Regions from separate parts of the Homo sapiens genome. Here regions 2, 3, 4, 5 and 6 are each reported to be linked to region 1. The links are microRNA targets in miRTarBase. Many come from high-throughput screens and were not tested one by one. Region 1 holds a microRNA gene; each other region holds the end of a gene's coding sequence. Distances are from middle to middle.
The links. The annotated mature microRNA hsa-miR-211-3p reads GCAGGGACAGCAAAGGGGUGC and lies in region 1 at 2,627-2,647, opposite strand. An mRNA with a match to its seed (bases 2 to 7 or 8) in the 3' UTR can be bound and repressed. Matches are read on the target gene's strand: a 7mer-m8 pairs with bases 2 to 8, a 7mer-A1 pairs with bases 2 to 7 and ends in A, and an 8mer does both.

Region 2: the mRNA of MXRA7 is a reported target of hsa-miR-211-3p. The part of its 3' UTR that is shown has no 7-base or 8-base seed match.
Region 3: the mRNA of HOXB6 is a reported target of hsa-miR-211-3p. Seed matches in the 3' UTR shown: 7mer-m8 at 970-976 and 7mer-A1 at 1,056-1,062.
Region 4: the mRNA of CHAC1 is a reported target of hsa-miR-211-3p. Seed matches in the 3' UTR shown: 7mer-m8 at 3,650-3,656.
Region 5: miRTarBase lists SULT1B1 as a target of hsa-miR-211-3p. Seed matches in the 3' UTR shown: 7mer-A1 at 1,965-1,971.
Region 6: miRTarBase lists NUMA1 as a target of hsa-miR-211-3p. Seed matches in the 3' UTR shown: 7mer-m8 at 3,460-3,466.

What each region holds. Positions count from the first base shown.
Region 1 is chr15:31,062,433-31,066,432 of GRCh38, forward strand. MIR211 (microRNA 211) reads right to left here and starts at 2,709; the gene lies at 2,600-2,709. TRPM1 (transient receptor potential cation channel subfamily M member 1) reads right to left here. Exons shown (of 28, transcript NM_001252024.2): 7 at 3,644-3,815; 8 at 686-860; 9 at 147-270.
Region 2 is chr17:76,677,194-76,681,323 of GRCh38, forward strand. MXRA7 (matrix remodeling associated 7) reads right to left here. Exons shown (of 4, transcript NM_198530.4): 4 at 2,373-3,686. The coding sequence ends at 3,674. Among named protein-coding and RNA genes, the nearest start is that of MXRA7, 32 kb to the right of the region's middle.
Region 3 is chr17:48,593,059-48,597,058 of GRCh38, reverse strand. It overlaps HOXB6 (homeobox B6), which reads left to right. Exons shown (of 4, transcript NM_018952.5): 4 at 387-1,308. The coding sequence ends at 646. HOXB5 (homeobox B5) reads left to right here and starts at 3,280. Exons shown (of 2, transcript NM_002147.4): 1 at 3,280-3,938. The coding sequence starts at 3,377. The region is part of intron 1 of HOXB-AS3 (HOXB cluster antisense RNA 3); the gene reads right to left. RefSeq lists enhancers at 396-565, 623-1,294, 2,337-2,842, 3,072-3,141, 2,843-3,350 and a silencer at 3,607-3,656.
Region 4 is chr15:40,955,434-40,959,563 of GRCh38, reverse strand. It overlaps CHAC1 (ChaC glutathione specific gamma-glutamylcyclotransferase 1), which reads right to left. Exons shown (of 3, transcript NM_024111.6): 3 at 3,052-4,130. The coding sequence ends at 3,790. Among named protein-coding and RNA genes, the nearest start is that of CHAC1, 4.0 kb to the right of the region's middle. RefSeq lists enhancers at 1,276-1,812, 3,315-3,865.
Region 5 is chr4:69,723,326-69,727,455 of GRCh38, forward strand. It overlaps SULT1B1 (sulfotransferase family 1B member 1), which reads right to left. Exons shown (of 8, transcript NM_014465.4): 8 at 1-3,875. The coding sequence ends at 3,763. Among named protein-coding and RNA genes, the nearest start is that of SULT1B1, 35 kb to the right of the region's middle.
Region 6 is chr11:71,999,908-72,004,037 of GRCh38, forward strand. NUMA1 (nuclear mitotic apparatus protein 1) reads right to left here. Exons shown (of 27, transcript NM_006185.4): 26 at 3,980-4,130; 27 at 2,957-3,631. The coding sequence ends at 3,620. It overlaps IL18BP (interleukin 18 binding protein), which reads left to right. Exons shown (of 6, transcript NM_001039660.2): 2 at 20-105; 3 at 444-650; 4 at 1,294-1,417; 5 at 1,498-1,645; 6 at 1,877-2,897. The coding sequence starts at 78. The coding sequence ends at 1,954. Among named protein-coding and RNA genes, the nearest start is that of IL18BP, 3.1 kb to the left of the region's middle.

The sequences.
Region 1 (4,000 bases):
ACCAATTTGGTATGCATTTGTACTGTCTCTCAGAAAAGGCCGGACTAAAATATGAATAACCCTGTCATGCACACATGGGCGGAATTAGAAAAGGAAACATAATTCTCTCCACAGAGCTTGTTTGGAAATAAATTCAAGACACTTACGAGTTCTTTCTTCTTCATGCACTCCATTATAATTGCAAACAGCTGATGTGATTGTGCCTTATTATAATTAAATGTTTTCTGAATGGTAACTAGAAGCTGCTCCCTGAGGGACTCATTTATTATTCTGTTCAAAGAAAATGCAAGAGAACAAAACAAGGCAAGTTAAATCTATATATGAATGAGTCAGACATATCTCTGTCTTTGATTTGAGACTTTGCTGTGGGAGGATATCCTGACACAGGAGACAAAAAGTAACCATAGTCAAACATCGTATTCTCACTTGTCCTAAATTCCAGCTTTGTTGCAAACTTTCTAAGGGCAAATGAAGTTGGAAATGAGGGAGAGAGAATTCCATCAGGAACACCCTGCCTCTGATGGTTCCCCTGGATGCTGACCTGAGGAAATGGGAGAGGAGATCTAGCAAATCTTCCTGATTTAAACACGTTTGGAATGTCTAAGCAGACCACTTTAGATTTTCTCCTTGGCCCGACAAAGAGGGAGTTACGAACCCGCCCTTCCTCGCGCGTCAGAAATCCTACCCGCCTTCTTCACAGTACTTGTGCGCAAAGGACAGGATGTCCGAGGCACGTCCGCTGCCATCACAAATCACCACAGGGATGGGAGGCTCTTCTTGCAGGTATTCCAAGACGATGGACACCACGTTAGGGCCCCCCTCCACCACGAGACCCACGAGGGGCACGCCCTGCCCCAGTCCTGCAACACAAACCACATTCGCCCATACCACCTGTGCCCTGCACTGTCCACCCAGTCGTTTTAACTCCTGAAGTATGGGGAAGAGTAAAAACATTACGACTTGGGGGATGTTCTATCTGGCTGGAAGGAATTCAGGCATGTGATAACAATTTTCTTTTTCTTTTCTTTTCTTTTTTCTTTTTTGAGACAGAATCACACTCTGTCCCCCAAGCTGGAGTGCAGTGGCATGATCATGGCTCACTGCAGCCTCAACCTCCCTCTCAGCTCAGGCAATCCTCCCACCTCAGCCTCCTGAGTAGCTGGGACTATGGGCACATGCCACCACACCTGGCTAATTTTTGGTAGAGATGAAGTCTTGCCATGTTGCCCAGGCTGGTCTCAAACACCTGGGCTCAAGTGATCCACCTGCCTTGGCCTCCCAAAGTGCTAGGATTACAGGTGTAAGCCACTGTGCCCAGCCCAGTTATCATTCTTGCATTCTGTCACATATTATGGCCTCATTGGGAAAACCAGGACCTCAAAGTCTGAAACTTTCTGACTCACATATGGTTAAACTCCTGAATAACCCACCCACCTGATGTTGGGGCTACTTCAAGGTGACCACTGAGAAATATTGGAAGGTATTCCTGGCTGGAAAAATATCCCCCTGGCTGTCCTAGCCTATGGTCTGAAATTCCCACCCTGATGGCTGTCCCTGAAGAATAAGATGATGAAAGGGGATCTGGACCAGCCAGGGAAATTGCAGTTCAATTCCTGGCTTCTCCCTTATGACACTGGGCCAATCACCAAATCACCAAGAGCCTTAGACAGCCATTTGTAAAAGGTGAACAATCACAGTGCTTCCTTTAACTCCTGCAGTTGTAAAAATATCAGAATATGTGTTTGGCTAGCAAATAATTTTGTAAACGTTAAGTAGCATACAAATGAGGTACACTGTTCTTGTTGACGTTTCTGTCTTCAGTGGCTGGAATAAAGTGCAGATCTTGGACGCAGCCACTTGGACCACTAGTGGCCCATCAGTTAATGACCTGTTCCCAGAGTCCTCCCTCTGTCTCTATCAGTTAATAGGACTCTTCAAGAACACAGTGGGTACCAACTAACTTTTGGTGGCAGAACCTGCAGGCATGGCTCTGGGAAGCAAGAGGTGGCAGGAAGATTCCAGGAAGTTGGGATTCTGGAATGGGAAGGAAATGGGAGTGGAGGCACATTTGCCTACTTCCTAATTTTATGCCACACTGGCCATGACAGATCACACTCTGAGCCTATTTCACCAGCTGTCCATTAGTTGTGATGGGAATTAGTTGATCGATATTAACTAAAGGCAAGTGGAAGTATCGTTGGTCTCAGCTCTGAAGGGCTTCAGATAAAAATCTGCCAGCATTGGTTAAGAGAAGATTGGAGAATTTCAAATGAGCCATTTCAGAGTTTCTAATTTGCTTCCATGAGGTGTTTCTACAGTCAGGGACTCTTACATATGTTGAATAACTCTGCTGTGTCCACCAGAGTAATTACAGCTAAGTTCATTTCAGCAGACATGCATTGAGGGTCTGCTTTGTGCAAAGCCCTGACCAGGAGATATTGGAAAAATGAACTAAGATATCCTGGACTCCGCCTTTGAGATTTCCAACCCAAGCAAGGATTGATATTTTCAATCTTTAGGAATATGGTGGCCAAATCACCTTCTTTTCGAGCAACAGAGTAGAACAGGTTCTTCTTGGCTTAGGCTGGAGTCCTCGAAGCTCCGTGCTGTGGGAAGTGACAACTGAGCACCCCTTTGCTGTCCCTGCCCTGCTCAGAGCCCTAGGCGAAGGATGACAAAGGGAAGCCCACAAGTCACATGGCCAGGTGAAATGGGGTGTTGTAAAAACTTACAAGTCCAGAAAAATTAGAGATGTGAGAACAAAAAACATTCAGTCATCGACCAATGTATTCTTCGAGATCTGATTCTCGGAAATCTACAACTTTTCCTAGTAGGCCATCCCCATTCTACCCACTCTGCAGCATCACAGTCCCATACATGATGATTCCCAATGACCATTCGCCAGGACTAGATGGTCTCCCACAAAAATCTTGCCAGTAATGGGAAAAACAAACTGCTCTTTCAGATCATTTAACAATTGTTTGACGTTAAGAATTACTGGAGTATAAACATGCTCCAAGAGATTATACCAGTTATTGTAATTCTAACCAGTTGTTATCATTGTTTCTTCTGGTTGAGGTTTGCGTCTTTCTCTCTAGTTCGACCTCAGCTTTCGTCTGACAGTGACAGCTCCCCCTCAGGACCAGCAAGGATGATGCCCCTTCAGGAGCAGATGGCTCCTGCAGCCCTCTCCAGATATGTCCCCACCTGGCCATCTTAGTCTACATGAAAGGCCCAGCATTACAGAGATATTTAATAATCACATAATACTTATCAGCAAATAGAAAGAATCCTACTAAATCTTTGAGAAATTGTTTTCCTGTTAAAACACTTAAAAAATAACAACTAATTACAGGGAACAAGAACCACTGGGCAACAGGGTGGGCAAGGCCATCACCATGGCGAGCACTGAGGGTTATTTCGTGCTAACTTGTGAACCTGGGGCAAAGCATCCCCATGTAGCCCAGTGAATGTGATTTGGTAGGTGGCTAAGGTAAGACATCTAGGTGAGTCATTTTCTGTTGACCTAACAAGAAGCAAGGTTAATCTTCTAATCCCCTTGGGCAATCAATCTCCTTCTCAGCCTTGTTTCCACTGTGATGGCATCAGCCCAGGAGGACTGCGTGCCTTTGCCAGCACTTACTTGTGTTGATCTTCTGCAGGGAGATGTGCTTTTCCAGCAGCCTTCGCAGCTTCACCTCGGCGCCATACTTGCCCAGGGTGCCATTGTCAGCCAGGATGAAGTGGGTGTGGGAGTTGTTGAGCACAGAGAGCTTACTTAGAGGGTTGGACATGGTCTGGTACACTCTTGTTACCTGACAAAGTGCACAGCGCAAATCAGACCTGCAGGACTTGGATGTTAAGACCAACAAGGGAAGCAAGCACAATACATATGTGTGGAGTGACTGCACTAAAACTTATTCTCACATCTCTACCCTGCCTTTTGAAGGTTTTATTTTTGCCAATTGTTACATTAAAATAGAAAGAAAGTTAATTGTTT
Region 2 (4,130 bases), not on the chromosome of region 1:
AGGCAGGAGAGTCGCTTGAATCAGGGAGGTGGAGGTTGCAGTGAGCCAAGATCACGCCACTGCACTCCAGCCTGGGAGACAGAGTGAGACTCCATCTCAAACAAACAAAAAAAGATTTGGATCAGGAGAGGGCCTCAGAGCCCAATAACAGCTGGAACCTCACCAGCAAGCAGAAACCAGAGGGGTCAGGGACTTTGTCTTCTGAATAAAACAATTTTGATTCCTGCAAAGTAATATACACACTGCAAGAACTCGGCAAGTACCTATAGAATGTACGCCTGCATCTATGTTTATAAGGGAAAATTAGGCCTACAGAAGTCTGGAAAGAACAAGGGCATGGGGCAAGGGTGGGGACAGCATCAGGCATGGCCGCTGTGCATCCCGTGGGCGCAGTCTACATGTCGTAGAGCCGGAGCTGCTCCTGCACGTCGCCGTCGGACATCTCGCCAAACGTCTCCTTGTTGTCTTTCATGAGCTTGAAGATGGCAGCCAGCTGTTCCTTCTGAACTCTGTCGAGAAGAAAGGACAAAGAGGAAGAAGGTGCTCCTAGCCCACTGGGGAGAGAGGGAGCCTGTGTGCAGCCGGCGGAGTTGGGACTCTCCTCTCTCTTGTGTGACTGCGGTTGCTTTTCAGAACAAGAAGAAAATGAAAATAAAACCCACTTAGAACATCGGAGCTGGTTGGGTCTGACACACGCAACTTTTGAGGGCTCTAAAAACTGGGATGCGAAATCTCAGGTTTGCCGGGGAGGTTTGGGGACCCCAGGTATCACTTAGGTGCTCTGTGCCTCAGTTTCCCTTTGGGCCTCATTTGATTGTTGACTGCATGTCCCACAGTGATGTAATGAGGAAGAAGATAGGCTCCATGAAGCAGCTTGAGGTAGTGCTATGAAGAAGTAGGTTAGAAACAGCCTTCGTTGAGAGGAATGAGCCGAAAGTGGAGAAAGAAAAAACATTATCAGCTGGGAAATCAGGGAGCATACAAGTGTGTGCAAGACGGTGCTTGGCAAAGGAGCGGGGAGGGAAGCCTGTGGGGTTTCACTGGCCAGAGAAAGGGGGGTGCCTTTTCCTAATTTGCACAAGATACCCTATGGCAGGTGGCGGCCCTGCCCCTTTTATCAAGGGATGGGTGTGGAGGAAGACTGGCCTAAATGTTTGCTCCACGCGGGTTCTGTGCTGGGAGCAATGTCTTGTTATCTTTATGAGGCTCAGCTACACCATCTGACCAGCACAGGACAACTTCTGCAGCACAAACACCTCAGGTGGGGCGAGGCGGCTGCCGAACCCAGGGAGCCATATGTTTGTTGTTTGCTCCACTCTGGTGCCCTGTGCTCCTCAGCCCAGCCGGGCACTGCATCCTGGCTGCATCTCACTCTTCTGGTTTCTGCAGTTCCTGCCCCCCACACACCACGGGCTCAGTGCCTTCAGAGAACGTAAACCACATCACAGTGTCGGACCTCTCAGCCCTGCTCTGCAGCTGGGTCGGCTGTAAGCACGTTACAGGCTCTGCAACCGCAGGACCTCAGCATAGCCCTGGGCCACTGGCATCCCCCACACTGCCTGGAGGGGTGGTCTCCACGTTCGCTCCCATACTTTTGCTACCATATTCCTTTGCTTCACCCTTCCCTCCTCTCCTCAGCCCCGCATCTTCCATCCTGCAAAATTTTCTGTCTAGAGCAGCATCTAGTAGTTGAAATACTGAAGTCCCACTTCCCAGCCTCCCTTGTCCCCTGGGAAAGCTGTGTCTACAGTCGGTTCCCCTGTCTGGTGAAGCAGCAGCCTATGATGTGTGCTTTGTGCCCTCCTGTAAGAAGAAAGAGGGTCAGGTGCAGTGGCTCATGCCTGTAATCCTAGAACTTTAGGAGGCCAAGATGGGAAGATCACTTGAGCCCAGGAGTTCAAGACCAGCCTGAGCAACATAGTCAGACTCTGTCTCTATAAAACAATTAGCCAGGTGTGGTGGTGAGCACCTGTAGTCCCAGCTACCTGGGAGGCTGAGACGGGAGGATCACTTAAGCCCACGAGGTCCAGGCCACAGTGAGCTGTGATTGCACCACTGCACTCCAGCTTGGGCAACAGAGGGAGGCCCTGTCTCAAAAAAAAAAAAAAAAAGAAGAAGAAGAGGAATTCCCGTGAACAGAAAGGATGTGCTGAGCTCTGTGGATGGAAGCACAATCCATATGTCCCTGAGTGAACACAGATCATGTCATGTGGTTTTGACAGCCATGGTGACTGCATATTTTTTAACAGGGTGGATGTATGGCTTTGTACTCTGCTGCAGAGTAAGAGGCATCAAAATGAAAGAAAGGTCAAACTTCAATGGGTTCAAAAGGGATTTTGTTTTAAAACAAAGCAAACTGAAAAAACACACAGTAATTGAGATCATCTACTCAAAGTTTATTGGACTGAACAAAGGCTGAATACAGAGATCCAAGCCATGAGGAGTACATGAGGTGTGGTGCCTATAAGCCAGGGTCGGAAACTTTCCAGACAAACCTAGATAGCTCTACTAGGAGGGAGTCAACGACCTATTGTGTCAATTAGATCCCAGCCTGGACAAGGGCATGACTATTGCTGTTTGGGGACACGTGGCTCTGTGTTGAAGGCAATGACTGTGTGGCTGTTGCCATGTGGCCTGTTCTCCCCTAAGCCCTGAACCAAAGGTTCCAGGCCCAGATGAGAAGGCCCCTGGGAATGCATGCCATAGGGGTTGATGCTGGACATTCCCCAGCCTTCCATTAAATGAAAACATTTTCTATAAACTTACTGCTTTAAAAAAATGTTTTAACCAACAAACCTAAGAACTGCAAATGAGTTTGGTATAGTATAAATATTGTCAAATATAAAATTCCAAGAAACCCATTTGAGACTGATCTGATGATCTGAAGTTCTAACTAATCTATCAAACTTTCTAAGAAAAGGCATAGGTCAAGAAATCTTTTTAAAGCAAACATTATTGCTTCTGCTATAGCAGAGTGGAGATTTGGCTGAGCTGGTAAGAACCTCAGTGAAAAGGTGTCTTAGCAATGAAAGGGCTGAATCCGAGATTCCTCTAGATGAAAAATAAGGGGAATGGTCAAGTAAATTCCTGGTACTGGTTCTTTGCTGCCCTGTAATCAATATGGCATCTCACCCCCGACAACCAAGCCAGCCACAGAGAGAAGTGGGGTTCCCAGGGAAAGGGGTCGGCTGACCACCCTGACGGAGCTGGTGAGCACAGGTGAGCTCTACCTCATTTGTCTCTCATTCCTCAAAGTCTTCTGTGGTTTGGCTTCAGTGAGGGCAAAAGAGGGGAGACTGGAGTGAAAGTGAACTCTGCTTTTAAAATGTTCTTTTTATCTAAGGTGTGCAGGGTGTGTGGATAGCAAGTTTGAGTGGTAAGAAAAATCCCAGTCCAGGGTCTGAGCTCTACCTCTTAAAACTCTTCAGCTTAACAAAGTGACCCACAGGAACAGACATGAACATCTCTACACAGGGCAGGGCCAAAGGTGTTCCCAGGATCCTGCTAGCCAAGGGACAAGTCCTGATTGAGGGTCTAGAGCTCAGCAGATTTATGGAGGCAGCATGCACCCTGGGAGCCTGCCCAGACTCCTCTCTGGGGTTTCCGTTTTATCTCTCAAGCTTTTAAGATGCCAAAAGGAAAAGCCTTTAGGAGGACGCTAAGGATAACTTCGTTATTCTTCAGTTCTGTAAAGAGAAATGGGGAGAAAAAGATAATTTATTTTACTCATTCCATCCTGCACCATGGGCAAGGAAAGGGGGAAATGGGGACGAGGAAGGAGAATGTTTGGAATTGCAGAAGCTGCGCTAGACTCTGGTTTCTCAAACCACTGCTGATTTGCTTCTCATCGCTTGCAGCAAGACAGTCTGTGCCGCCAAGCCGGCCAGAGCTTGCAGAGCTCCCCTTGATCCCGCACAGAACCTGGCAGCCCACAGACCCTGTTCAGCCTCTGCAGGGTACTTAAGGAAGGAACTTGGGCATTTGAGTTGCCAAGGGCCTTTCTGATCTTGGGTTGTGTGGTTGTGCTGACAATATTCCTATCACCCTAGATAATTTCCCATTCCCGCTGGCTGAGTTTTGTCCCCTCGGGGGATACTGGCACCCTAGGATGCACGCTTCCAGATGGAGCC
Region 3 (4,000 bases), not on the chromosome of region 1:
TCGATCTACGTCATTACGGATTAACGGCCTGGATTTATCATTGGGTTGGGGGGATGACGGGGGGTGGGAACAAGATGGATGGAAAGGGAGGGAAAGACAAGATGCAACTAGGAAGAGACACACCTGACCAGCCCCTCCCCCCAGGCTCAGGTGGGAGTTCAAACTGCTCCTCCCCTCCCCCATCTAGAGTCTAGACAGACGGCACAGGCCTAGGAGACTAGGAGGGAATCTGGAGGGGGCGCTGGAGGAGTGCGAAACGGGGGAAGGGAGCCGGCAGAATAGAGGGCATCCCGGTACTGGCTGGAGTCTGTGTTCGAGGGTCGACTAGGGGAGGGGGTCCTGGGCCCGGTGACCGCAGGCCTCAGCATCTCCACTCTGCGTAACAGGTTCCTCCTTTGGGCCCAGCGGCCGGCGAGGCCGCCAGACATACACACGTTACCAGACGCTGGAGCTGGAGAAGGAGTTTCACTACAATCGCTACCTGACGCGGCGGCGGCGCATCGAGATCGCGCACGCCCTGTGCCTGACGGAGAGGCAGATCAAGATATGGTTCCAGAACCGACGCATGAAGTGGAAAAAGGAGAGCAAACTGCTCAGCGCGTCTCAGCTCAGTGCCGAGGAGGAGGAAGAAAAACAGGCCGAGTGAAGGTGCTGGAAAGGGAGGGAGGACGCGAGGGGAAAGGCCTGTGGGGAGCCGAGGGCGTCAGAGAGACCCGGGAAGGAAGGCTCTCGGGTGGGGGAGCCAGGAGACCTGCTCTCCGGCGCAGACAGGCGGGGCCCAGCGCTCTCCTGGACGCCCCCGCCCGCACAGCTCCCGGCGGGTGCTCTGAGGCCTCACTACTCGAGCCCACCCAGCATCCCGCGCGCCCTTCCTTCCCGAGGAACTCGCCTCAGCCTGATCAGGCTTCCTGGTGAGAACTGAGGAGCGGACTCACTTGATGTTTCCTGGAAGCAGAGCAAAATGCTCTTGTCCCTGTCGCGTCTCATTTTGTCCATGTCCCCCGTGCACGGTTCAATGGTAGATTCGCTGTCCCCTCAGCGGGGGCCTTGAAGACTCCCTGATCCCAGACCTGTCGTCTCTCCCACCCCCTCCCCAAAGCCACTGGAAGGAGCACATACTACCTAGAAGTAAGAAGAGGAGCCTCAGAAGAAAACAAAGTTCTATTTTATTAATTTTCTATGTGTTGTGTTTGTAGTCTTGTCTTAGCTCTGGACGTGAAATACTTCGATGATGATGATGATGATGATGATGATAATAATAATAATAATAACAACAACAACAACAATAATAAAGATGTGAAAACTCGACGCTCGGTCACCTCCAATCCTCCCCTGCCATTTTTTCCTCTCTCCTCAACCCCCAGCCTCTCCATCTTTCCTGAGCCAGAATTCTTCAGCAAAGGCGAGAGCCCTGGCCCGCCGAAGCGAGCCCTGTTCGACTGGGAAGTTACAGCTGAGATAAAGGCTGGAGCGATCAGTCCTGCCCAGGCCCCAGCGCTGCGTTTCCCTGGTGCTGAGGCTCACAGCCGCTTCTCCCCGTGCAGACTTGGGGGATGGAGAGGTGCTGTGTCCCTCTCATTCTCTAGCCTTTCCTCGTGTATACACAGCACTAAGGGAGCCACTGAGGCCCCTAAAGCTCTCTGGCGGAGACGGAGCCATAGTCTGGGGGCCTCTGCAGCGCTTTTCTGTCCTCACCTTCGCAGCGACCCCTGGTCTTTGGCCCGTCCACATGGCCAGGTTTTTTCGCCAGCCTTGGCCCTCCGCTCCTGGCCTGTGGCTCTGGAGACTGAAAAATGGGGCCACTGGGTATCTCTCACCCTGCAGCTGAAGGCTCCAGGTGCCCCTTCCCACCTCAAGTAGCAGATCAGCCTCAAGTAGGAGATCAGCCTCAAGTAGGGGAATGTAAAGCCACCAGCCAGGCACAGGCCGAAGGCCACAACTTTCCCTTGCTCCTTGGAGACCCCAGGGCAGGAGGCCAGGTGATGGGGCTTTTAGTGTCATCCTCTCAACCCAGAATGGCTCATTCTCTCTCTGCTTGCACCGGCACCCAGAAGGCAAGCTGCGGTCACTGTTTTCCTTTATTCCTCCGCCCTCTCGCTTCCTTTCTTATTTTTAAAGAAAATAGTCCCCTCCTAATAGGAGACCAGCTGCGGCGGTCTCTGGCCGCCCAGCGTGCTCAGCAAAGCATGCGGGTCCTTGGAACCCCTTTTCCGGGAAGGCGGCTGCCACCAGGCAAATTCTCAAACTGCCTAGCTGCGAGTGAGGGACCTGTAGTGGGGCCTCCGAATGCAATAGCCGAGGAGGAGGGGAAGGGATCCCGCTTTACAAACTCTCAGACACATGTTACTACTCAAACTAAGCAGCAGACGCGGTGGCCGCTGCAGTCTTTTCGGCAACTAGGCCGCTTAGCCCCAGCTGTGCTCGGTTTCTGGGGTCCCTGTCCTGCTCTGTCACTCCCCACGCCTGGGCTAAGGACCACCAAGGAGGTCCGGAAGGGGATTTCGAACTTCCAAGTGGCCCAGGAGAAGTGAACGCTTCTCCTTCTTTTTCAAGCCTCCCGCCCAGCCCTGCCGGCTCGGCCTGGGCGCTGTGGACCGGTAACAGCAGTTCCACCAGGATGCAGGCCGGACTAAGCTCCTGGGGAAAACCCGTTGCAATAATTGTTTTTCACACACAACTTCCAACCCTTCCCCCATTTCCGCCTCCAATTCGGAGACTTGCAAAGCCCAAGAAAGGGAAAAGCAACTCTATCTTTGATCTTCTCATCCAAAGTTAAAATAATAACGACAATGATGATGTAGGGAGAAAGAACCAAATAGAGAGGCTAACCCCACCCACAAGAAAGTGGGTAAAAAGCCCAACCCCTGCTCTAAAAGGCTCAACCCTGTGGCTGAGCCTTGGCCGGGTTTCTTTCTCTCCCGGCGACTGCAGGGAGCCTGCAGGGAGCCAGCAGGGAGGCAGCCGCCCGCCGCCATGGCGGTCTCACGCCCGCGCTCCCGTCGGTCGCCGGGAGGTGGCGCGCTCTGCTCAGAGGCCAAAGCCAACCTTCTCTCTGTTTCTCCCCCTTCTCCTTTTTTCCCCCTCTCTCGGAGGCTCGCATTGAATCGGCCCTAACGATTCTCGGATCGTCATTATTTGTAACCATAGAGCATGAATTACCTCTTGAGGTCATCAGCGAGAATTTACGACTGGTCAACAAAAGCACGTGATTCCCTAACGCCCCCCACCCCCCTTCCAACCCCCCCCCCATATTTGGCCGCATACATAGCAAAACGAAGTACAGTGCATCGCTATAATTCATTAATACATCATAAATCGTGAAGCACAGGGTTATAACGACCACGATCCACAAATCAAGCCCTCCAAAATCACCCAAATGAGCTCGTACTTTGTAAACTCCTTCTCGGGGCGTTATCCAAATGGCCCGGACTATCAGTTGCTAAATTATGGCAGTGGCAGCTCTCTGAGCGGCTCTTACAGGGATCCCGCTGCCATGCACACCGGCTCTTACGGCTACAATTACAATGGGATGGACCTCAGCGTCAACCGCTCCTCGGCCTCCTCCAGCCACTTTGGGGCGGTGGGCGAGAGCTCGCGCGCCTTCCCCGCGCCCGCCCAGGAGCCCCGCTTCAGGCAAGCGGCTTCGAGCTGCTCCCTGTCCTCGCCCGAGTCCCTGCCCTGCACCAACGGCGACAGCCACGGCGCCAAGCCCTCTGCTTCGTCCCCCTCCGACCAGGCGACCTCAGCCAGCTCCAGCGCCAATTTCACCGAAATAGACGAGGCCAGCGCGTCCTCGGAGCCTGAGGAAGCGGCAAGCCAGCTAAGCAGCCCCAGCCTAGCTCGGGCGCAGCCAGAGCCCATGGCCACCTCCACAGCCGCGCCCGAGGGGCAGACTCCGCAAATATTCCCCTGGATGAGGAAGCTTCACATCAGCCATGGTAATTCTCTCTCTCTTTTTTGTCTTCTCGGCTTTCCTTCTCTGCGTTTTGGGGTGGGATCG
Region 4 (4,130 bases), 9.9 Mb from region 1:
TAGGCGGAGTGCAGTGGCGCGATCTTGGCTCACTGCAACCTCCACCTCCTGGGTTCAAGTGATTCTCCTGCCTCAGCCTCCCAAGTAGTTGGTACTACGGGTGCCCACCACCACGCCTGGCTAATTTTTGTATTTTTTAGTAGAGACTGGGTTTCACCATGTTGTCCAGGCTGATCTTGAACTCCTGACCTCAAGTGATCTGCCCGCTTTTGGCCTCCCAAAGTGCTGGGATTACAGGCATGAGCCACCGCACTACTACAGTAAATGTTAATAACTATATCCGACATAAACAAAAGCTCTTGGGGTCCTCCACAATTTTTCATTTGTGAAGGGGTCCTGAGACCCCCGCAACTCCTGTGCCCTCAGTTATCCCTGTTTCTCTCTCTTCTTAGCAACCATGTTTCCTGAAAGCTGCTTCCCCTCCCACTGGCCCCTCAGCCCTGCCTTGTGGCTTTCCATACTGTTCCTGAAATTGCTCTCACTGAAGCCACAAGGGACCCCCCCTGGCATTTCATCCAGTGGACACTCTTCTGTCCTCGTTTCTCTTGACATCTTGGCCATCTTGGCAACATGACCATGTTGTGCACCTCCTGGAGACACCTTCCACCCTGGCTCTCCTCACCCTGCCCTCTCCTCGTTCTCCGCCTACCTCTCCAGCGCTTGTTCCCGACACCTCTTCTTGCTTTGCTCAGACCACCGCGGCTGGGGTCCTCAGGGCCTGGCCGGGCCCTGTTCTCCTCTCCTCCCCTACCAGGGCTTTAAGCCCAGTCTCCACATGTATGGTTCCCAAGTCTCTAACTCCAGCCCAGCTTTCTCTCCTGACTCCCACACCAACATATCCAGCTGCCCTGAACATCCCCGTAGAAGTCATTCCTCCCCTCACAGGCACCCCTAACTTAAACGCAAGGCTATCTACCCCCGACTCTTTCCAGATCTGCCACTGTCCCAGGAGCCCCAGCCCTACTGTCTCTACCCTCCTTTCACTCTGCTCATCAAACCAGCCACCAAATGCTGTCAACCTCACCCCTAAACAATTCTGCAATCCCTCCACTGTCCATTCCCACTGGCACACCTCAGCTTGGGCACCCTACAGCTCCCTCTGGCCTCTCTCCTCCAATCTGACTTCAGCCAGTGTTCTCTCTTAAGCACATCTCTGCCCTTCTCAGAATCCACCAGAGGCCCCCACTGACCCAGGAGGAATGCCACCCCGCAGCATGGCACAGCGCAATTCACCAGGCCGGCAGTCCTGCCACCTGTCTGGCTCGTGTCTCCTGTCCGGGCCACTCTGTTCCAGCTGGTCTGAGCTTGCCTCCCCTCAGGCACGTGTTGTTCCCTTACTCTCTGTTCCTCAGAGGCCCCTTCTCAGGTTCCCTCTCCAAGAAAGCCAAGAAGGCCTTCCCTGACTGCCCTGCTCAAGTCAGAAGCCCTTTCTGGGTGCTCAAGGCCCTCTTCTCCCATTCCACGCTGAATGGTCACCATCAGTTTCTAGACTCCAAGTTCCTTGAGGAGGAGGAGTTCTTTACCGCTGTATCCCCGTGCCTGGAATGGTGCATGGCACACAGTGGGAGCTTAAGGAAATACTTGCTGATCGAATGGCTTGATGGGTGAAAGCCCCCTACGTGCAGCTGGCAAGCAGCCCTCCCCACCATCAGCTCCCAGGATGGAGCAGGGCTGTGCTCTGGCTGTCTGGCAAGAGGCCCAGGAAACACAGGAGGCAGCTGCCCAGGGCTCCCTGCCACCTGCTGCCTCCTCCTTTTGTGTTGCCCTCACCAGGCACCCAGAAGAAGCTGGCTGGACTCCACACTCTTCCCATCAATGGCCAAGACACAAGGCCGCCAAGACATGAGCACACGGCCCAGGCATGGCACCCTCCCCAGCCACAACGGCTGCACAACCTGATCGGAGTTGACCCTGCTGGAGACACCCAGACCAATCCAGGACACCAGCCGCAAGAACAGCAGCAACACATACCACCCAGCCTGCCCCATACATCATCCCACGGCATCGTCCCCTCACAGTGAACTTGTACCCAGGGGGCTGAAGGCTTTTTCCGAGGTGACTGGGCAATGAGGAGGAGGCTGGGTTGGACTCTCAAGGCACTTTTTTTTTTTTTAATTTCCTTTGTATTTTTTATAGAGATGGGGTCTCACTGTGTTGTCCAGGCTGGTCTCGAATTCCTGGGCTCAAGTGATTCTCCCACCTTGGCCTCCCAAAGTACTGGGATTACAGGCATGAGCCACCACACCCAGCCCTTGGCCTCAAGCTCTTCTGCTGCTAGAGCCTGTCATTTTGGGTCTGCCCCATTCTGCAAGTTCAGGGATTGAGTAGCACTAAGAGGCCACTCCTGATGAGGAGCTCAGGCCCAGGCTGAGATCCTGGAGCTGTGATCTGTCCCCAAGGGCTAGACAAGAACATCTGGGGACAGGCAGGGGGTAAACTTGGGGCCCGCATTCCAGTGTGGGTAAACCAGGGCAGGTGATGGCAATGGGGAAGGCACAGGCAACACCACACTCCCGGAGGCAACAGTGAGCACTCAGACTCTGAAAGTAAAAGGGACACCAGGTCCTCCAGGCTACAGGTCCCTGCCATTAGCCTTGCCTTAGAAGTTGTCATCACCCTACCCTAACCCACGTGCTCCTTTAGCAGGACACCAGGGTTCTGGCCTAGCTGTTAGGAAGAGGCAGCCGCTGGCCCTGCAGCTGGAGGAAGAGCTGGTCTGAGCTCCAAGCCTGCCAGCCTCCTTGGGGCAGCTGGGCAGGATGAGACAGAGTCCAGGTTGGTGGCAAGGACACTGCTCACAGGGCTGCCAAGTAGAGCATGAGCTGAATTCTGCACAACTCAGGGGGTACTATTTGCATGCGTAAGGCATGAACTGTACCCATGAGAGTGATGTCACCTGCTAATTCTGCCTGCCCAGCTGCCCCTCCTGGGAAGAGAGGGAAGGAGAGGAAGAGGGAGCCCTTTCCCCTCTTAGGAGCCTTCCAGGGCATCACCACCTCACTTGCCCCAAACCCCCATCTGAGAAAGAACCACATTCCGGCACAGCACAGATAAAGAGATAGTTTTATGGGTAACAGTATGGGACAGACTGGGAAGGTTGCCAGGGCCTGTAGTGATGAGCTTCCCAGGAATAGACCAACACACAGGCAGGAGTGGCCCAGACAGACAAGTAGATAGACAGACAGACAGAGGGACAAGAAAACAACCAAGTGGGTAAGAGGCCCAGGCCAGGCTCAGCAGCTGTGTCCAGGCATCAGCTCCAGCTCTGCTCTGGGGAACTGGTGGAGGAGAAGGGCTGGCCGGGGCCTCAGTCCTTACAGGGCTCCTTCTCCTCATGCCCTACTATCCCTCATCCAGCCTGCTGGGATCCTTGGCAGGTGGAATTCCCAGGGCTATGGATGGCTGGGCTGAGTGAGCAGAGGATCGAGGCTCTTGGAGACTCCCTGGGGAGGTGGAGGCCTGGGTGGTGTGGGGTTAGCAGCAGCACTGGGGGGAATCTGGTCAAGTTCCAGGATGGGGCCACTGCTCAGCAGGGCCCCTGTGTCCAGGGCAGGCCCTCCACCTGCCCACCACACCAACATGGTGCAATAAATAAAGTTTCAAGTAGTAAGTCAGTGTCAAGCAGGAGAGCTGCAGGCTGGCAGACAGGCAGGGACTGAGAAAGAGAAGCCTCCAGCCACCCACCATATCTGCTCAGTGGGCTCAAGCGGTCGCAAGTCTGTCTTGTGCACTGGAGTGGGTGTCTGGCCCTGATGTCCACATGAGCACTCCCCGCAGGGGCTCAGCCCCTCACACCAGCGCCAGAGCCTGCTCGGTGGGGCAGAAGCAGGGCAACATGGTGCCCACAGCGTCCACGATGGCTGCCAGGTGCTCGTCCTGCGCCTGAGGCCCACAGAGCTGCATGAAGTCTGCCAGACGCAGCAAGTATTCAAGGTTGTGGCCGGAGAAGCCCCGGCAGGCCAGGATCTGCGTGGCAATGGCCTCTTCAGGCGCAGGGCCCAGGTAACCAGGGTTCTGTGGGGTGGCCACATAGGCCAATGCCTTCAGTGGTTGGTCAGGAGCATCTTGGGGATAGAAGGTGACCTCCTTGGTATCGTAGCCACCAAGCACTGCCTCTCGCACATTCAGGT
Region 5 (4,130 bases), not on the chromosome of region 1:
AAGAAGTTGAATCTCTGAATAGAAAAATAACATGCTCTGAAATAGAGGCAATAATTAATAGCTTACCAACCAAAAGAAGTCCAGGACCAGATAGATTCACAGCTGAATTCTACCAGAGGTCCAAGGAGGAGCTGGTACCATTCCTTCTGAAACTATTCCAATGAACAGAAAAGGAGGGAATCCTCCCTAACTCATTTTATGAGGCCAGCATCATCCTGATACCAAAGCCTGGCAGAGACACAACAAAAAAAGAGAATTTTAGACCAATAACCCTGATGAACATTGATGCAAAAATCCTCAATAAAATACTGGCAAACCGAATCCAGCAGCACATCAAAAAGCTTATCCACCATGATCAAGTGGGCTTCATCCCTGGGATTCAAGGCTGGTTCAACATATGCAAATCAATAAATGTAATCCAGCATATAAACAGAACCAAAGACAAAAACCACATGATTATCTCAATAGATGCAGAAAAGGCCTTTGACAAAATTCAACAGCCTTCATGCTAAAAACTCTCAATAAATTAGGTATTGATGGAATGTATCTCAAAATAAGGAGAGCCCTCTATGACAAACCACCAGCCAATATCATACTGCATGGGCAAAACCTGGAAGCATTCCCTTTGAAAACTGGCACAAGACAGGGATGCCGTCTCTCACCACTCCTATTCAACATAGTGTTGGAAGTTCTGGCCAGGGCAATCAGGCAGGAGAAAGAAATAAAGGGTATTCAATTAGGAGAAGAGGAAGTCAAATTGTCCCTGTTTGCAGATGACATGATTGTATATGTAGAAAACCCCATTGTCTCAGCCCAAAATCTCCTTAAGCTGATAAGCAACTTCAGCAAAGTCTCAGGATACAAAATCAATGTACAAAAATCACAAGCATTCTTATACACCAATAACAGACAGAGAGCCAAATCAGGAGTGAACTCCCATTCACAATTGCTTCAAAGAGAATAAAATACCTAGGAATCCAACTTACAAGGGATGTGAAGGATCACTTCAAGGAGAACTACAAACCACTGCTCAATGAAATAAAAGAGGATACAAACAAATAGAAGAACATTCCATGCTCATGGATAGGAAGAATCAATATCATGAAAATGGCCATACTGCCCAAGGTCATTTATAGATTCAATGCCATCCCCATTAAGCTACCAATGACTTTCTTCACAGAATTGGAAAAAACTACTTTAAAGTTCATAAGAAACCAAAAAAGAGCCCGCATTGCCAAGTCAATCCTAAGCCAAAAGAGCAAAGCTGGAAGCATCATACTACCTGACTTCAAACTATACTACAAGGCTACAGTAACCAAAACAGCATGGTACTGGACCAAAACAGAGATATAGACCAATGGAACAGAACAGAGCCCTCAGAAATAATACTACACATCTACAATTATCTGATCTTTGACAAACCTGACGAAAACAAGCAATGGGGAAAGGATTCCCTATTTAATAAATGGTGCTGGGAAAACTGGCTAGCCATATGTAGAAAGCAGAACCTGGATCCCTTCCTTACACCTTATACAAAAATTAATTCAAGATGGATTAAAGACTTAAATGTAAGACCTAAAACCATAAAAACCCTAGAAGAAAACCTAGGCAATATCATTCAGGACATAGGCATGGGCAAGGACTTCATGTCTAAAACACCAAAAGCAATGGCAACAAAAGCCAAAATTGACAAATGGGATCTAATTAAACTAAAGAGCTTCTGCACAGCAAAAGAAACTACCATCAGCGTGAACAGGCAACCTACAGAATGGGAGAAAATTTTTGCAATCTACTCATCTGACAAAGGGCTAATATCCAGAATCTACAAAGAACTCAAACAAATTTACAAGAAAAAAAAAACAACCCCATCAACAAGTGTGCAAAGAATATGAACAGATACTTCTCAAAAGAAGACATTTATGCAGCCAACAGACACATGAAAAAATGCTCATCATCACTGGCCATCAGGGAAATGCAAATCAAAACCACAATGAGATACCATCTCACACCAGTTAGAATGGCAATCATTAAAAAGTCAGGAAACAACAGGTGCTGGAAAGGATGTGGAGAAATAGGAACACTTTTACACTTTTGGTGGGAGTGTAAACTAGTTCAACCATTGTGGAAGACAGTGTGGCAATTCCTCAGAGATCTAGAACTAGAAATACCATTTGACCCAGCCATCCCATTACTGGGTATATACCCAAAGGATTATAAATCATGCTGCTATAAAGACACATGCACACGTATATTTATTGCGGCACTATTCACAATAGCAAAGACTTGGAACCAACCCAAATGTCCATCAATGATAGACTGGATTAAGAAAATGTGGCACATATACACCATAGAATACTGTGCAGCCATAAAAAATGATGAGTTCATGTCCTTTGTAGGGACATGGATAAAGCTGGAAACCATACTTTTCAGCAAACTATTGCAAGAACAAAAAAACCAAACACCTCATGTTCTTAGTCATTGGTGGGAATTGAACGATGAGAACACTTGGACACAGGAAAGGTAACATCACACACTGGGGCCTGTTGTGGGGTGGAGGGAGGGGGGAAGGATAGCATTAGGAGGTATACCTAATGTAAATGACGAGTTAATGGATGCAGCACACCAACATGGCACATGTATGCATATATAACAAACCTGCACATTGTGCACATGTAACCTGGAACTTAAAGTATAATAATAAAATGTACATATATATATATATATATATATATATATATATATATATATATATATATAAATGTTCCAAGAAAACATAGATCAGAGACCACACAAATAGATATAAGCATGTAATAATAAGTAGAAGGAACATTGGGTCAAGAGGGCAGAGTGGAGATTCAGCCTAGAGAGTCTTCCTTGGGCACCAGATTGGGAAATATTTTGCAGAGGTTATGATCATGTCTAGGATATTAAAGGTGCTATTAAGGTATCCAAATCTATCCAAATATAAGATTAAGTAACTGAAGTTCCCAAATGGTGACCAGAACACAGCAGTAGGTGATTTCTCTGAAGTTCAAACGGGTCTGTTGGGAAAAAGAGGACTCCCCATAAGAAGTAGGTCACAGCCCTCAGGGCTGCTTTTCAGAACAGAGCTCCAGTTCCCAGGTAACCAATCCTACAGAGACTATTGTAGGCGTTTGCCTTTCGGAGACTTAGACATTAGGTATGATATAGAAAAAAGATTTCCAAAATCTGAACTACATGATCGGGGACATGAACTTTGTTATCCAAATAGAGGCACTGCAGGAAGATGAGCTATGACTCAGAGAACAACTTGAAACTCGGTAGACAGCAGTGGAACACAGTGTCCTGGGTCAAATTTTCGGCAAAGGGAAATTGGGGCAGAGTTAGGAAATATAGTCTCATTATGAAAACAGCATTTCTTGGACCATGGTACTAGGGAGGGGAACTTAATTCTAAATCATAATATATGGGAGATTAAGTAAAATAAATCCCTTCTTTCTTATCAGTACTAGTGTAGAAAAAGGCAGGAAGAGCCTGTGGTTACATTGTTCCTTTGTTACAAAAAGTTAACAATGAACTTTAGCCTTAGAGAATTTGGAAACTCAGAATCAAAGGAACAAAACTGGGATCTGATTAATAACATTGAAAAGAATCAACATATTAAAAGCATATTATTCTCCTTTATAAATTCATTTGATTGCCCAAATCAATTCATAACTGCCCTCGTTTCAATCAACTACAGACAATCTCTTATTTCTTCAGATGTGTGATTTAGACACTTTAAATCTCTGTGCGGAATTGAAGTGCAGTTTTGGACATTTCTGTCTCATAAATAGCATCAAATTTCTCATTTTGGGCCACGGTGAAGTAATTCTTCCAGTCACCAGCCGTCCCTAAAGGTAAATAAAAAAACATAGGAAAGAATAAAATATTTCCATAAGAAGAAATCAGTATATACCAAAGGAAAAGATTAGAAGGCCTAAAGAAAGACCTTCCTTTTATTTGAATGAATTCAAACAGTCTTTAAATTGTATTAACCTTTAAATTTTTCAGGCTTTTAAAATTTGAATAATTTTTTACATCTGGAAAGGTGGTTTATAATTAAATAGAGTCTGACATTTGAAGAGGCATTCTGAGAAAGACTAATT
Region 6 (4,130 bases), not on the chromosome of region 1:
CTCCCCCACCTTTCACCAGAGAAGAGGACGTTGTCACAGATAAAGAGCCAGGCTCACCAGCTCCTGACGCATGCATCATGACCATGAGACACAACTGGACACCAGGTAGGCCTTGGGGCTACGCATGGGCAGGCGGGGTAGGGTGAGGTCTATGAACAGAATGGAGCAATGGGCTAACCCGGAGCCTTCACTCCAAGGCAAACCACCCAGCGCACCTGGTGCTGTTGCTTTAAGAACCTGGGCAGATATTGTAGCTCTGGCTCCAGTCTAAAGCTTCTCTGTACTCTGTTCAATAAAGGGCTAAGGGGTGGGTGCTGAGGGGTCCCTCTTCCCGCTCTGATTCCCTGGCTAGAACCCAGACATCTCTGGGCTGGAGTTACATCCTTACCCGGGCAGCCCACTCTGTCTCCAGAGCCGCTGACCTGTAACTGTCCTTTCCTCAGACCTCAGCCCTTTGTGGGTCCTGCTCCTGTGTGCCCACGTCGTCACTCTCCTGGTCAGAGCCACACCTGTCTCGCAGACCACCACAGCTGCCACTGCCTCAGTTAGAAGCACAAAGGACCCCTGCCCCTCCCAGCCCCCAGTGTTCCCAGCAGCTAAGCAGTGTCCAGCATTGGAAGTGACCTGGCCAGAGGTGGAAGTGCCACTGAGTAAGAAGCACAGTGGTGGAGGGTGGGCTATGGGCACAGAGGTTCCCAGGGTCGGGTTGACTCCTGAGCGCCAGTCCCCTTCTGCCCATGTACCACCAGCTGAGCCAGCTGGGCTGAGCACGCACCATTCTCCCTCCCCAACCCAGTGTCATGGGTGCAGGCTTGGCGCAGCTCCCAAGATGCTCCCTATCAAATAGGACAGAGAACTCAAGACATAAGTAATGGTCACAGGACCTCCCAGAGCCTTGGTTGCAGTGGACCCCAAGGCCAGCCCCTCCACCCAGAGCCTGCTGGCCTCTGGCCATCTCAGAGGAGCAGCAGCCATCCAGCACTGCCTTTGTCACCTGGGCTCCCAAGTCACCGAGGCTGGGCACTAGAAAAGGTCATCCTGAGGAGACAGGTTCAGAAGAGGATTCATCACGTGAACCAAGGACCATTCCTCACATTCCCCGTGTTTAGGGCTAGGGCCTCTCGGAGACAACTGCACTTCTGTAACGGACGTTCCCACCTAGGTGGTGTGCAGAGCAGTTCTCTAGGTTCCAGATGCATGGGGACTGGGGGGAGCTGGCAGGGAGGGCACAGCAGAGCAGGGTAGGGGAAGGGCCTGCTCTTCTGAAGAGCTAACTGCTGCCTGTGTCCCTAGATGGAACGCTGAGCTTATCCTGTGTGGCCTGCAGCCGCTTCCCCAACTTCAGCATCCTCTACTGGCTGGGCAATGGTTCCTTCATTGAGCACCTCCCAGGCCGACTGTGGGAGGGGAGCACCAGGTGAGGGTCGCAGCAGCCAGGTGGGTGGGAAGGAGGCCTTCTGCGGCCTTCTCATGACCTTTCCTTCCCTTCCGCTCCAGCCGGGAACGTGGGAGCACAGGTACGCAGCTGTGCAAGGCCTTGGTGCTGGAGCAGCTGACCCCTGCCCTGCACAGCACCAACTTCTCCTGTGTGCTCGTGGACCCTGAACAGGTTGTCCAGCGTCACGTCGTCCTGGCCCAGCTCTGGGTGAGGAGCCCAAGGAGAGGCCTCCAGGAACAGGAGGAGCTCTGCTTCCATATGTGGGGAGGAAAGGGTGGGCTCTGCCAGAGCAGCCTGTGAACTAATGCCCAGCATTCCTCAAGGTCAGCCAGACAAAAAGGAACTTAGGTCTTGGGCAGAGGAGGTGTAGCCTGGGGCAAAGTGATGAGATGTCCCTCCTTTCCTTGGCCTGATCCTTGTCTGCCTTCACTTCCCTAGGCTGGGCTGAGGGCAACCTTGCCCCCCACCCAAGAAGCCCTGCCCTCCAGCCACAGCAGTCCACAGCAGCAGGGTTAAGACTCAGCACAGGGCCAGCAGCAGCACAACCTTGACCAGAGCTTGGGTCCTACCTGTCTACCTGGAGTGAACAGTCCCTGACTGCCTGTAGGCTGCGTGGATGCGCAACACACCCCCTCCTTCTCTGCTTTGGGTCCCTTCTCTCACCAAATTCAAACTCCATTCCCACCTACCTAGAAAATCACAGCCTCCTTATAATGCCTCCTCCTCCTGCCATTCTCTCTCCACCTATCCATTAGCCTTCCTAACGTCCTACTCCTCACACTGCTCTACTGCTCAGAAACCACCAAGACTGTTGATGCCTTAGCCTTGCACTCCAGGGCCCTACCTGCATTTCCCACATGACTTTCTGGAAGCCTCCCAACTATTCTTGCTTTTCCCAGACAGCTCCCACTCCCATGTCTCTGCTCATTTAGTCCCGTCTTCCTCACCGCCCCAGCAGGGGAACGCTCAAGCCTGGTTGAAATGCTGCCTCTTCAGTGAAGTCATCCTCTTTCAGCTCTGGCCGCATTCTGCAGACTTCCTATCTTCGTGCTGTATGTTTTTTTTTTCCCCCTTCACTCTAATGGACTGTTCCAGGGAAGGGATGGGGGCAGCAGCTGCTTCGGATCCACACTGTATCTGTGTCATCCCCACATGGGTCCTCATAAAGGATTATTCAATGGAGGCATCCTGACATCTGTTCATTTAGGCTTCAGTTCCACTCCCAGGAACTTTGCCTGTCCCACGAGGGAGTATGGGAGAGAGGGACTGCCACACAGAAGCTGAAGACAACACCTGCTTCAGGGGAACACAGGCGCTTGAAAAAGAAAAGAGAGAACAGCCCATAATGCTCCCCGGGAGCAGAGGCCACTAATGGAGAGTGGGAAGAGCCTGGAAAGATGTGGCCTCAGGAAAAGGGATGAGAGAAAGGAGGTGGTATGGAAGACTCAGCAGGAACAAGGTAGGCTTCAAAGAGCCTATATTCCTCTTTTTCCCACACCGATCAAGTCAACTCAGTACTCACGGGAGAAAAATAGACTTTATTTACAAGTAATAACATTTAGAAAAGATCCATCCCCGGCCCTTAAAAACCTTCCCATCACTCCAAATCCCACCCCAGTGCAAGTCTGGGGAAGGTAGGGTGTGAGCTGCTGCTGAAGGCTGTCCCCCAACCCCACTCCTGAGACATAGGGCCCATCCGTCCTGGGAAAGAGCATCCTCTGGCAGGTGCTCCCACCAGGTCAGACCCAGTCCTGGACTTCAAGAGTGAGGGCCCCTGCTGGGCCCAGCCACCAGGACAGCAGGAACCAGGGCCTACTCCTCTTATGGTCCCTTCTAGATCCAGAGGCTAAGAGGAAGACTGGCCAGGCCCAAGGACCCAGCCATCAAAACCAGCCTCAAATCTGGTTGTGATGGAGAAGTGACTTTGCTTTAAGAAAAAAGGAGGCAAGGTAGGGAGAGCGCCCACACTGTCCATGCTCCAGGCCCCCTGGGCCAGCTCCGAGAAGGCGCCAGTGAAGGACCAGGGACCAGGCCAGGGTGCGGGCAGGCATCACTGTCTCTAGGGGTTTGGCTACTGTTGGCCTGGGAGCTGAGAGAAGGCACTGAGAGGGACAGTAGGCGGAGGACCAGGTGAGGTCAGCATCGGGGACACAGGTGGGGCCACTCACTGGTACTGGCCCTTTAGTGCTTTGCCTGAAAGAGACACAGTCACATGGCCAGATGAGAACTTGCGATACTAGCCTGCACCCACTGGCTGGGAAGATCTCTTCCTGCTCCCACGCCCCTGTCTGGATCCCCTCCCTTGTGAGCCCCAGGGTTATCAGTTGCTGGCTGTGCCTGAGCAGCTCTGGGTGCTCTCCATGAGAATGGGGCCATCTGTCTTCTCTCCTTGGAGAGGAGCTACCAGGACAGGGACACCTCTTACCCCACACCCTCCAGCAGCCTGGCGTGGCCCCATCTTGGATGCTACTTGGTGGGGCGGTCTGGGGGGTGCCCATGCTCTCATCGGGTTTCCCTCCCCCATCCTGCCAGTGCCTCTACCTTGCCCTTGGCTCGAGGGGTGGCACCAATGGCGGCAGCAGTGGCGGCGCTGGCTGTGGTGGTGGCAATGCGCGGAGAACGGCGGGTTCCACTGCGAGTGTTGGGGGAAGCCTTGGACAGGGCCTTCTTTGAGGCTCCCCGCCGCAGAAGG